Regions from separate parts of the Homo sapiens genome. Here region 1 is linked to region 2. The links come from fine-mapping of genetic effects on gene expression. A gene starts in region 2. The other region holds a variant in brackets. All regions are shown on one strand. Distances are from middle to middle. Region 1 overlaps PRTFDC1 (phosphoribosyl transferase domain containing 1). Region 2 holds the start of PRTFDC1 (phosphoribosyl transferase domain containing 1).

Evidence for each region. PIP is the estimated chance that this variant, and not a neighbour inherited with it, causes the effect. A credible set is the group of variants that fine-mapping cannot tell apart.
Region 1: its variant is the best candidate, but not a certain one, in a credible set for the expression of PRTFDC1 in whole blood (TOPMed, PIP 0.73).

The regions. Positions count from the first base shown.
Region 1 is chr10:24,892,308-24,897,682 of GRCh38, forward strand. All of the region lies in intron 3 of PRTFDC1 (phosphoribosyl transferase domain containing 1), which reads right to left. Among named protein-coding and RNA genes, the nearest start is that of PRTFDC1, 58 kb to the right of the region's middle. The variant C/T (reference allele first, on the strand shown) is at 2,609.
Region 2 is chr10:24,949,355-24,954,729 of GRCh38, forward strand. PRTFDC1 (phosphoribosyl transferase domain containing 1) reads right to left here and starts at 3,252. Exons shown (of 9, transcript NM_020200.7): 1 at 3,174-3,252. The coding sequence starts at 3,221. It also overlaps a transcript of THNSL1 not described here. RefSeq lists a silencer at 3,413-3,602.

The DNA.
Region 1 (5,375 bases), 57 kb before region 2:
TTTGAGGAACCCCCATACTGTTCGCCATAGTAGCTATGCTACATTCCCAAAAACAGTGTATAAGGGTCTCCCTTCTCTCCATCCTCATCAGCATTTGTGATTTTTTTTTTGTCTTTTTCATAATAGCCCTTCTAGCGGGTGTGAAGTGGTATCCCATCTGGTTTTGATTTGCATTTCCCTGAAGATTGATGACATTGGGCATTTTTTCATGTACCTATTGACCATTCGTATACGAGTGACATTCTTCATAGAAACAGAAAAAATAATCTTTTCCTGATTCTTACGGGAAAATGACACCGAGGCCAAGTAGGTGACACAGTCCTGGTCTGCAGTCACATATTTCTCAAGCACTCCTAACTCAACAATTCAAATTTAGTAACAAATTGTGCGTATGATAAATCCACTGGTCCACAAGCAGAAAGAGACTGGGGTATTTCACAAGGCAAGTGGCAATGAAGTCAGTATTCTTCAGTAGAAAACTGGCATTTTAGATTCTTATTTCTGGGGCATTAAAGACCTAAAAGCCAGTGTTGGTACCACTGGCAAGCATGGGTACATATTAAGGATACACGAGTGATTTTTAAACCCGCCACATAAAATGTTTGATTTTTATCACTCCAGTTTATATTTGGCTGAGGAGTATGGGGAGAAAGAGTTTCTAAGATCTCTTAAAACCCTGGGATCTAGCTATCCGTAGATAAGACAATCCACCCAAATTTTGCTCATACAGTATCAGTCTTTGTAATAGCACACCTGACTGAAAGAAAAATAGAAGTAGCACATCCTATGTTACATAATGTTATATATTTGAGAATGAAAACTCACTTGAAATTCAAACACAATTTAAGAGGAAGGTATCCAAACTTGAAAAAATTTTCATGAGTCCATCTCTTAATAATTAGATAGGCATGTATAGTCAGAAAGTTTCTGAAAACACTGATTCTTTTGTTCTCTCTCTCTCTCTTTCTCTCTCTCTCTCTCTTTCTCTCTTTCTTTCTCTTGGCAGGGTCTTGTTCTGTTGCCTGGGCAGGAGTGCAGTGACGCAATCATAGCACATTGCAGCCTTGAGCTCCTGCACTCAAGCAATCCTTCTGTTTAGGCCTCCCAAGTAGCTGGGACTACAGGCGAGTGCCACCACAACCAGTTAGTGTTTTTTTGTTTTGTTTTGTTTGTTGGTTTGTTTTGTAGAGACAGGTCTCAATAGGTTGCCCAGGCTGGTCTCAAACTCCTGGCCTCAAGTGATCCTCCTGCCTTAGCCTCCTACAGTGCTGCAACAACAGGAGGGCCACTGTGCCCAGCTTCATTTTCTTGTAACTAGAAGAATATGTTTCATTAGCTTATAATAGTAATAATAATAGCTAGTCTAACCTTTATAGTGATGGATACTGTGCAGGGTCGTACTTACTTGATCTCATTTTCTAGATGAGAAAATGGAATCTTAATTAAATCGTTGGTCCAAGCTCACTCAGTAATTGGCAGAGCCTGAATGTGAACCCAGGCCTGCCCCACAGCAGAGCCCTCCTGTTTGAGCATTATGTTGAACTTCAGGGAAATGACACAAATCCATACAAATCAACTTGGCAATGCTGGCGGTAGCAGTGCTCAACATGGGCACCCACAGTTTGTCACCTCATGACGTCTATTGGAATGTACTTGGGTCAAGGCAGAGGAGGTGCAGAAACTGCTTGTCTCCTGATAACATTACTGTAGTCCTCAAAGGAAGTGTGAAAATAGGACTTCATTGGCCGGGCGCGGTGGCTCACGCCTGTAATCCCAGCACTTTGGGAGGCCGAGGTGGGGGACCACGAGGTCAGGAGATGGAGACCAGCCTGGCCAACAAGGTGAAACCCTGTCTCTACTAAAAAATACAAAAATTAGCTGGGCGTGGCAGCATGTGCCTGTAATCCCAGCTACTCGGGAGACTGAGGCAGGAGACTCGCTTGAACCTGGGAACCAGAGGTTGCAGTGAGCCAAGATCATGCTGCTGAACTCCAGACTGGCGACAGAGCTAGACTCAATCTCAAAAAAAAAAAAAAAAAAAGAGAGAGAAAAGAAAATAGGAGGGCACTGCTGGCCCTTTGGCCGTGGGAAGTGCTGCATGAGCTGTGAGTCATGCTCTTAGGCTTCGGCCTCTGTGGATGCTGACCACTGACCATCACCAGCAGGCTCTGGACAGGCAAGGTGGGTTTTGTCTGTCACAGTCATGTGTAGTCAGTGGAGAAGAGTGGTTTCTTTTTCCACTTCATGCAGCTCAGAGTTCTGTGAAGGCACCCGGGAGCCAATCTCGGTTTGTGGATGAGGCAAAGTGGCTCACAACCAGGTTCCTGCTCTGCGATCCCCAGGGCAGCTCCATTTTTGAGGTTTTATGGAAGACATCACTTAAAATGTTTCAGTGCTGAAAAAAAGTTTGAAAACCACCCTCCTCCTGGGAGACAGCATAGGATAGTGGTTAAGATCGTGGCTTTGGAGTTTGACAACATGGGTTCAAATCGAGGCTCCGCTCCTGTGGATTGTGTATGCCTTGGGCAAATGAACCCTTTTGAGCCCCAAATGCAGCCTGGCTCAGAGTGGGCATCAGGAAGTAGTGGCGACACACACCACTGTCTGG[C/T]CCCACCCGTGGGTGGTGAGATAGAAGGAAACCAGGTTAAACTCAAAGAGAGACAGAGAAGCCGAGTGGTTCATGAAAGAAAACCCTGGGCTTGGCTTCCCAGACAGGTTTGAAGCAGAGAGGGGTTTGCCTACGTCGTACCAGTCAATGTCTCCTAAGATCACAAAACTGGATGCCACCTTAGAGAAAAGGCAATCCTTGTCTTGTTATAAACTGAAAACTGAGGCCTGAGGAAGTTGTGCTTTGTACCAGATTTAAATTAGAAAGCTATATCCTGCAAAACATTCTATTTTTATATCCGAGTAGGATTTGTCCTTCTTCTGGAAATCTCCACTTTCTTTTTTTTTTTTTTTTTGAGATGGAGTCGCTCTTGTTGCCCAGGCTGGAGTGCAATGGCATGATCTTGGCTCACTGCAACCTCTGCCCCCTGGGTTCAAGACATTCTCCTGCCTCAGCCTCCTGAGTAGCTGAGGTTACAGGCATGCACCACCACACCTGGCTAGTTTTGTGTTTTTAGTAGAGATGGGGTTTCTCCATGTTGCTCAGGCTGGTCTTGAACTCCTGACCTCAGGTGATCCACCTGCCTTGGCCTCCCAAAGTGCTGAGATTACAGGTGTGAGCCACCACGCCCAGTCTTCACTTTATTAGTAGTTTTCTACGCCTTAGAGAATGTGGGGGGTGGTGCATGAACGGCCTTGCTTAGGGAAAAGGAACAGCACTGGAACAGAAGAGAAAGAAAACCTAAAAACCTAGGAGGGCAAGAGCTGGGGTGGATATATATATATATATATATATATATATATATATATATATCTGTAAATACATACACATGCATACACACATTCTCTATCCATATATCTAGAGAGGGAGACTGATTAAAAAATGGAAATCAATATCCCTTGATGCAATTTTTAACCCATTACAACAATAATATGAGTACAGACCTTCCATATAAAAATGTTTTCACATAATTTTCAGACACCTGGAAGTTATGTCAACGCATATTTAATCTAAAAACAAAATAAAACTAGTTCCCCCCCTTCTTTCTTTCACTGCACTGACACAGTGAAACATCTCTGGCCTCAGCTAACTCTTTGGCCACATGGTGCTCCCACCACACATGTACAGAGAAGGGCTTTTGGTCCTGGGAAACTAGGGCACAGAAGTCAACAGTAGGTGTTCTAGAACAGGGGTCCCCAAACCCCAGGCTGTGGATTGGTACTGGTCTGTGGTCGTTGGGAACAGGGCCACACAGCAGGAGGTGAGTGGCAGGAGAGGCAGCATTACTGCCTGAGCTCTGCCTCCTGTCAGATCAGCGGGGGCATGAGATTCTCATAGGATCACAACCCTATGGCGAACTGTGCATGCGAGGGATCTAGGTTGCATGTTCCTTACGAGAATCTAACTAATGCCTGATGATCTGAGGTGGAAGAGTTTCATCTGGAAACCATCCCCCAACCCTTCCCTAGTCCATGGAAAAGCTGTCTTCCACAAAACTGGTCCCCGGTGACAAAAAGGTCGGGGACTGCTCTTCTAGAGGGTGCTTCCCCAAGTCTTTAATTAGGAAGAAAGGCCATTTCTTCACTGGGCCTCCTCATGAGAATCCCAGAGTTCACTAGCTCAACTGCTGACAGTGCCATGCTAGTTTTAGTCTTTTCTTAATGGAAAGGGAGAAAAAGATGAAAGCAAATGCATCTTATTTGGAGGCACTTCAGAGGAAAGTCAGAAAGTATGTCACTCGGTCTGTTGTGAGGAGCACTGGGTGGTCAAGCACTAAACACTCTGGAAAAATCCTGAAATGTCCTCTGTGAAATTCAAGGTCTTTCCAATACCAAACAAAAGTGCATACCACTTAGCGTGTTCTTCTAAAAAGTTGAAAAGGCCGTGTGTACCTTTCGCCTGTAATCCTAGAACTTTGGGAGGCCAAGGAGGGAGGATCCCTTAAGGCCAGGAGTTTAAGACCAGCCTGGACAACATAGCAAGACCCTGTTTCTACAAACAATTTAAAAATTAATCAGGTGTGGTGGTGCGAGTCCGTGGTCCCAGTTACTCAGAAGACTGAGGTGGGAGAATTGCTTAAGTCCAGGAGTTCAAGACTAGCCTGGGAAACATGGCAAAAACCCATCTCTACAAAAAATACAAAAATTTGCTGGGCATGGTGGCATGTGCCTGTAGTCCCTGCCACTCAGGAGGCTGAGGTGGGAGGATCGCTTGAGCCCAGGAGTTTGAGGCTGCAGTGAGCAATTATGAAGCCACTATACTCCAGCCTGACAGAGCAAGAATCTGTTTCAAAAAAATAAATAAATAAATGAACCATCCCCCAGATGGAGAGCATTCTGAACCAGTAGAAGTCCCCTCCTTGGAGTCAGTTAAAAGGCATTCCTATTCCTAAGTCTATCTCTAAGTCTATCCCTATCCCTAAGTCTAAATTTAACAAAAACCAAACAAAATAAAAAGGTACTCCTACTACCTGCTGTCCTCTTTTAGGATGTTCACTGATGGCTTCTCTTCCCCTCCTCTCAGAATTAAGAAGGTTGTGGTATTTAGGATAAAAAATGAGGCAATGTGATGTTTTGGCAAAACCCTTTGATGGCAGGAAACCCTGTTAGCATTTTGATAGAGTGAGTCAGCCATTGAGGCCTTCAGGGGAGTGATAAGAGTGTCCCCAGCATGACACTCCACAACTTGATGGAAATCCGGGGCTTCTTTGTAAGCATAACTGTTTTTCCCAAGAAGTGCAAACTAAAAACACAATGAGGTGGCCCTT
Region 2 (5,375 bases):
TTACAGGTGTGAGCCACCACTCCCAGCCACCTGCCCCTTTTTAAAACTGGTACTAATTTGATTTTTTGTATCCCATCCTTGAGAGCTTTCTATTCTCCCAGTAAACTCATCCTCTCCAGCTCTCCCTTCCCTCCTGCCTTACATGCCATGAGCTGCCTTCTACCAGCAGCTTCGATTCGCTCTGAAGTTGCCTGCTTATATCCAACTTGAGGTTAATCTAATTATTCCAAGTTCTACTGGAGAAAAGGATGTAAATGTAGGGACTATCTCCATTATATGTGGATTATTTCCCACCTTTGTGGGCTCTCATGCAAGCACCAAGCCCCTTGGCAGCTGGTCCAGTTTATACTCATTTTTTTTGTTTATTTATTTATTTATTTATTTATTTTTTTTTTTTTTTTTAAGAAGGAGTTTCACTCTTGTTGCCTGGAGTGCAATGGTGCAATCTTGGATTGCTGCAACCTCCACCTTCCGGATTCAAGCAATTCTCCTGCTTCTGCCTCCCAAGTAGCTGTGATTACAGGCATGCACTACCATGCCAAGCTAATTTTGTATTTTTAGTAGCAGCAAGGTTTTACGATGTTGGTCAGGATTCTATTGAACTCCTGACCTCAGGAGATCCACCCACCTCGGCCTCCCAAAGTGGTGGGATTACAGGTATGAGCCACCTCACCTGGCCCTCTACTCTCTTGATACCCCTCTCACTACCTCTTTGCATCTTTCAAAAAATTACCTTGCTTCCAAGAGGACCTCTGTTGACACCAATAGACTGGGCTATTTACAGTGTTCTCTCACTTGTTTTTTAGACTTCAACAATTTACCTACTCTATCCGTGCATCTAGATTCACCTTATTCTTTTCTAAAAGTATGTAGTATGTTACGGTAGTACAAGTTGAGTACCCCTTATCCAAAATGCTTGGGATCAGATGCGTTTCCAATTTCAGATTTTTTTTCCTTTGGATTTTGGAATATTTGCATTATACTTCCTGGTTGAGCATCCCTAATCTGAAAATCCGAAATCCAAAATGCTCCAGTAAGCATCTCCTTTCAGCATCATGTTGGTGCTCAGAAAGTTTCAGATTTTGGAGCATTTCGGATTTTGGATTTTTGGATTAGGGATGCTCAACTTGTACTATATTTTAACCATTCTACCAATGCAGTGGTTGTTTAAAAGATTCTCCCTACTAATGGCTTTGTAATTGTTAAATACAGTGGCTGTTTTCCATCTTGGTATCCGACTTGCTGTCCCTGTAACATCTGACACTTCTGATGACCTCTTGACCCCGCCCCTCCTGCTCAACAATGCTCTATTCCCAAGGCACCCACCATGCTGCCTGCCCTCCCACCCTTCAAAGTTCTTTCTCGGTTCCTTCAACCAGCTTCTCCCCCACAGGCAGCCTCTTATATTTGGGACTTTCCAGGCTTCCATCCTTAACAGTTGCTTTAATTGTTTTTTCCATATTCACTGAGCACTCCCGAACATTACATATTATTCTTTTTGCTGATGACTTCCAAATCTCTCCAATCACTCTCCAGAATTCCAAATGTGAATTTCAAATTGCCTACAGTGCAGGCCAACCTGTGGGCCTTACAGGCACTACAAACTCAATTTGTCCAGAATGAACTTAATGATTGCCCTTTTTGCGTTTTAGTCCCCCTCCCATCCATCACACCGCTAGGCTTGCCCCTCCTCCTGGGGCAACTGGAATGGTTTTTGTAAAAGCATAAATCGGATACAATGATTCTTTTGCATTTGGTATGCGGGTCTCTGCCTGCAGTCCACATGGCTACTCCTGTGTACCCTTCAGATCTTGGCTCAAAGGTCACCGCAGAGAGGCTGCCCTGACCACCTGAGCAAAAGCATCACTCCCCCCTTCTCCTCCAATTACCCTCTATCCTGTTACCCTCCTCCTATTGCACATATCTCTATTTGAAATTTTCTCTATTTGTTTACACACTGCTTGCCTATGTCTTCTCTAGAACGCAAGCTCATGAAGACAAGGCCTTTGTCTTTTGCACCCCAGAGCCTACAGCACCTCCTACAACCCAGCAGGACAATAAACGTGTGGAATGAATAAATCAACTCCTCATCCTTTCAGAAGGAAAGGTCCTGCTGTTAAATTAAGCACTGAGCCCCACATTTCAACCTGACCCTTCTGTCTGAATGTGACACGTTTCCCTCCCCAGCCCACTTACTTTAGTTCAGGCCATTCATATTCATAAACAGATTATCTGTGAATGACAAGCTGATCCCTGGAAAGAGATGGCAAGTTAGCCCCACCCACCATCCTCACCACCATTGAGTTTCACACTGAACCTGACACAAGTTATAACCACCACCTTCTAGGAAAACCACTTCTCAGGGAGCAGGGAGGACGTGGCCACAAGGTCAAGAACGGGTTGGATCCTAGCACACTGAGAGATGGGTACCCTCTGGCTGACACCGTCAGGATTCTCAGGGTTAATGAGGCTCAGTTCTGGGAAACCAGCACCCCACACCCTCCCATCCGGACACACTGCTAGATATTTTACATGCATCCTCCCAATTGGCTCCAGAGCCCAGCTTGCTGTTGCTCCCTTTTACAGACAAGCCATAGGTCACTCAGGAGCCGCCAGCGTGTCCTAGAGCTCCTGCAGAGGCCTCCACTGCCAGAGAGCCCCCAACCTGGGTACCAAAGGCTTCAAATCTCAAGCTCTGTCCACTTGAGCTACTTTATTTCCTAGCTGCCTTCAAAACCCCTCAGTGTGCTTTTTAAAAACAAAACTTGAAGCCCGCCCTGGAGGAGTCAAGAGGAGACCCAGGAAGAAGGAGGCCTCCAGAGCAGCACGCGGGGGTCTCTGGGGCCCTGCCGGGCTCGCAGAAGCGACTCCCCGTGGCTCGCGGGGATGGGGACGGCTGGGCGCCGGCGGGACGCTGCAGGAGCGAGCTACCGGCCGGAGGACACGGGGGGACGCTGGGAACTCGGGGTGAAGGGACGGGACTCAGAGTTTCGTCAGATTGGGGGCGGGGAGAGGAGGCCCGGGTCCGAGGATGGAAGCGATCCCCGCCGGGAGGGAGAACAAAGCGGTGGCCCTCTCTCTCCCCCGACGCACGGCAAGCATTTAATCTACAAGCAGGGTGCCAGGGAGGGAGGGGAGCGGGCCGAGCCCCAAAATAGGGAGTTTGCATTTACCACGACGCCTCGCCCGTAGTCTGGCGCCTCCTCGCTGCTCCCGGCCATGTTTCTCCCGGGGAACGCGGGAAGGGAAGACGGCGCGGGAAGGAGCAGGGAGGGCGAAGGCTGCGTGGGGGATGGGACGTGGGGATGGGGACGGGGACGGGGACGGGGACGGGGACGGGGACGGGTCCGCCCCGCCCCGGGCCCGCCGGCGGGAAGCAGCGGCCTGACGCGGATCCATGGCCCCGGCGCTGCGCCCCCTCCCCTGGCTAGGCCGCGGGGGCGCGGGGAGCAGCTGCCAAGCCGCTACCGCTCCCCCTGAGCGCGGGCCCCGGACGCGTCCCTTGCGGCCGCCGCTGTCGCCGCCGCCCCCTGCCGGATGGTCGCGTGCAGCCCCCGGCCCCGCCGCCAAGCCCCGCGGGGACTCTGGAGCAGGAAGCCCGCGGCAGGAAGAGAACGTGTCCCCCAGGCCCCTGATTCCCAGATCCACCGTCCCAGCCCTCGGGCTAACAATCTCCTTGACTCCTCCCTGCCAGATTTCATGCACGCGATTGTCCCAAGCAGAAGCGTGAAAGAGCCTGTGAGCCAGCGTGCTCTTGGAGGATGGGAAGTGTCCTGGATGTGTTTTCAAACCTTGGAGCCGCCACCCACCTCTCTCCACCTCCGCTCATCTCCCTCCACCTCCCCTCACCTCCCTCCACCTCCCCTCACCTCCCTCCATCTTCCTCCACCTTTCTCCACCTTCCCCCACCTCCCTCATCCCAGGGCCTGGAGCTGGAAAGATTACACCCGATTGCTTTTAGGGTGGCCCGGATCTGCAGTGATCAGATCTGGGCTTTGAGGATCCAGCCTTTCGGCCTTTCGTCAACTGCATTCAGGGGAGGAGGGGGAGAGATTTTTACACATTCTCTGCTTTACCAGTTTTGCAAGAACATCTGGTCAGATTGTAATTGTTCCAGGTTGCAGCTTTACTAAAGCAATCGCTCTTTTCTGATTAGAAATCCTTCTTGTATGAGTCTGTTGTTCATTTCAACCCCTCTCACATGCCTATGCTCCGGTTCTTTGTCCACTCCTGTAGGTTCCTGCTTTTTCTGGGTGTGTCTTCATTCCCCAGGTCCCTGACATCTCACCAGCGTCTTCATTCACTCAGCCCAATTCGGGTCGAAGCCCTGAATCCAAGAGAACTTAACACAGTTTTCCTGATGCAGGCGTCTTTTGTTCATCTTCGAATTCTGGCACACAGAGGGGAGAGGAATGCTGATTTTGCCTAGTTTAAAGGGGAAATAGTTATCAATCGGTTAATGACGTTCTAGGTTGGAAAAATATTAGTCATTCAGACTTGGCGCCCTGGTCCTGCTCAGCAGGGCTGGCTCTTCATGTCGTTTCTAAGCGCCAGCGCCTTGGAGGGTGCAGCTCCAGAGATCCCTGAAATCAGGCATCTGCTTGGCAACTGCCTTACAGAAATGGGGGGTGTTGTTTCTCAGCACACGGGTAAACATTTTCTCCTAGTAATTGTGAGAGGGCGTTGTTTTGAGCCATTTTTGTAGTCTGCATCTCACTTCTTTTCCCCAAAGTCAAGCACCATCTTTTATTTTCATTTTCAAAGACCAGGCCCAGGAACCATATTCACAAGCAACATCATTAAAATTTCCAGGAGCAGAAAAGTGCTATCATTAGGATGATGATCAAACTTTAGAGTTCACAAGACTCTCCTGGGGAGCTGGTTAATGCAGCTTCACTGGGTGGGGAAGATCTGTGGAAGCACCTAGAATCCTGTACCTGCTGAGAGACACCAGATGGGTGTGATGTGGGTGGCTCATGACCCATGCTTTAGGGGATTCCACTAGACCATCTTACTGCTTGGATATCAAAACTTAGCCATGAGGCTCAGTGTGGGTGCAGGGCCAGATTGGGGGGTACCAGGAACTTCAAAATATGTCACAGGAGTAGTTGCCATACAGAAGTCAAAAAGCATCAACTTTGGTTCCAGCCTAGACACTGCGGAAGATGTAAGGGAAATGGTAGATAAATCTTCTTCCCTTAGAAAGGCTATTAGTTTAAACGTAAAATCCAACAAGTTCACAGTGAAAAATGTAACTTGCTTGAAAGACAACAGGAATCTTATGAATGTGTGCTCAAGAACATCCTACATAGACTTATATAGGTCATCCTATAAAGGGCACAGAATGATGAGTAAATAGTTTTTAAAAATCTAAT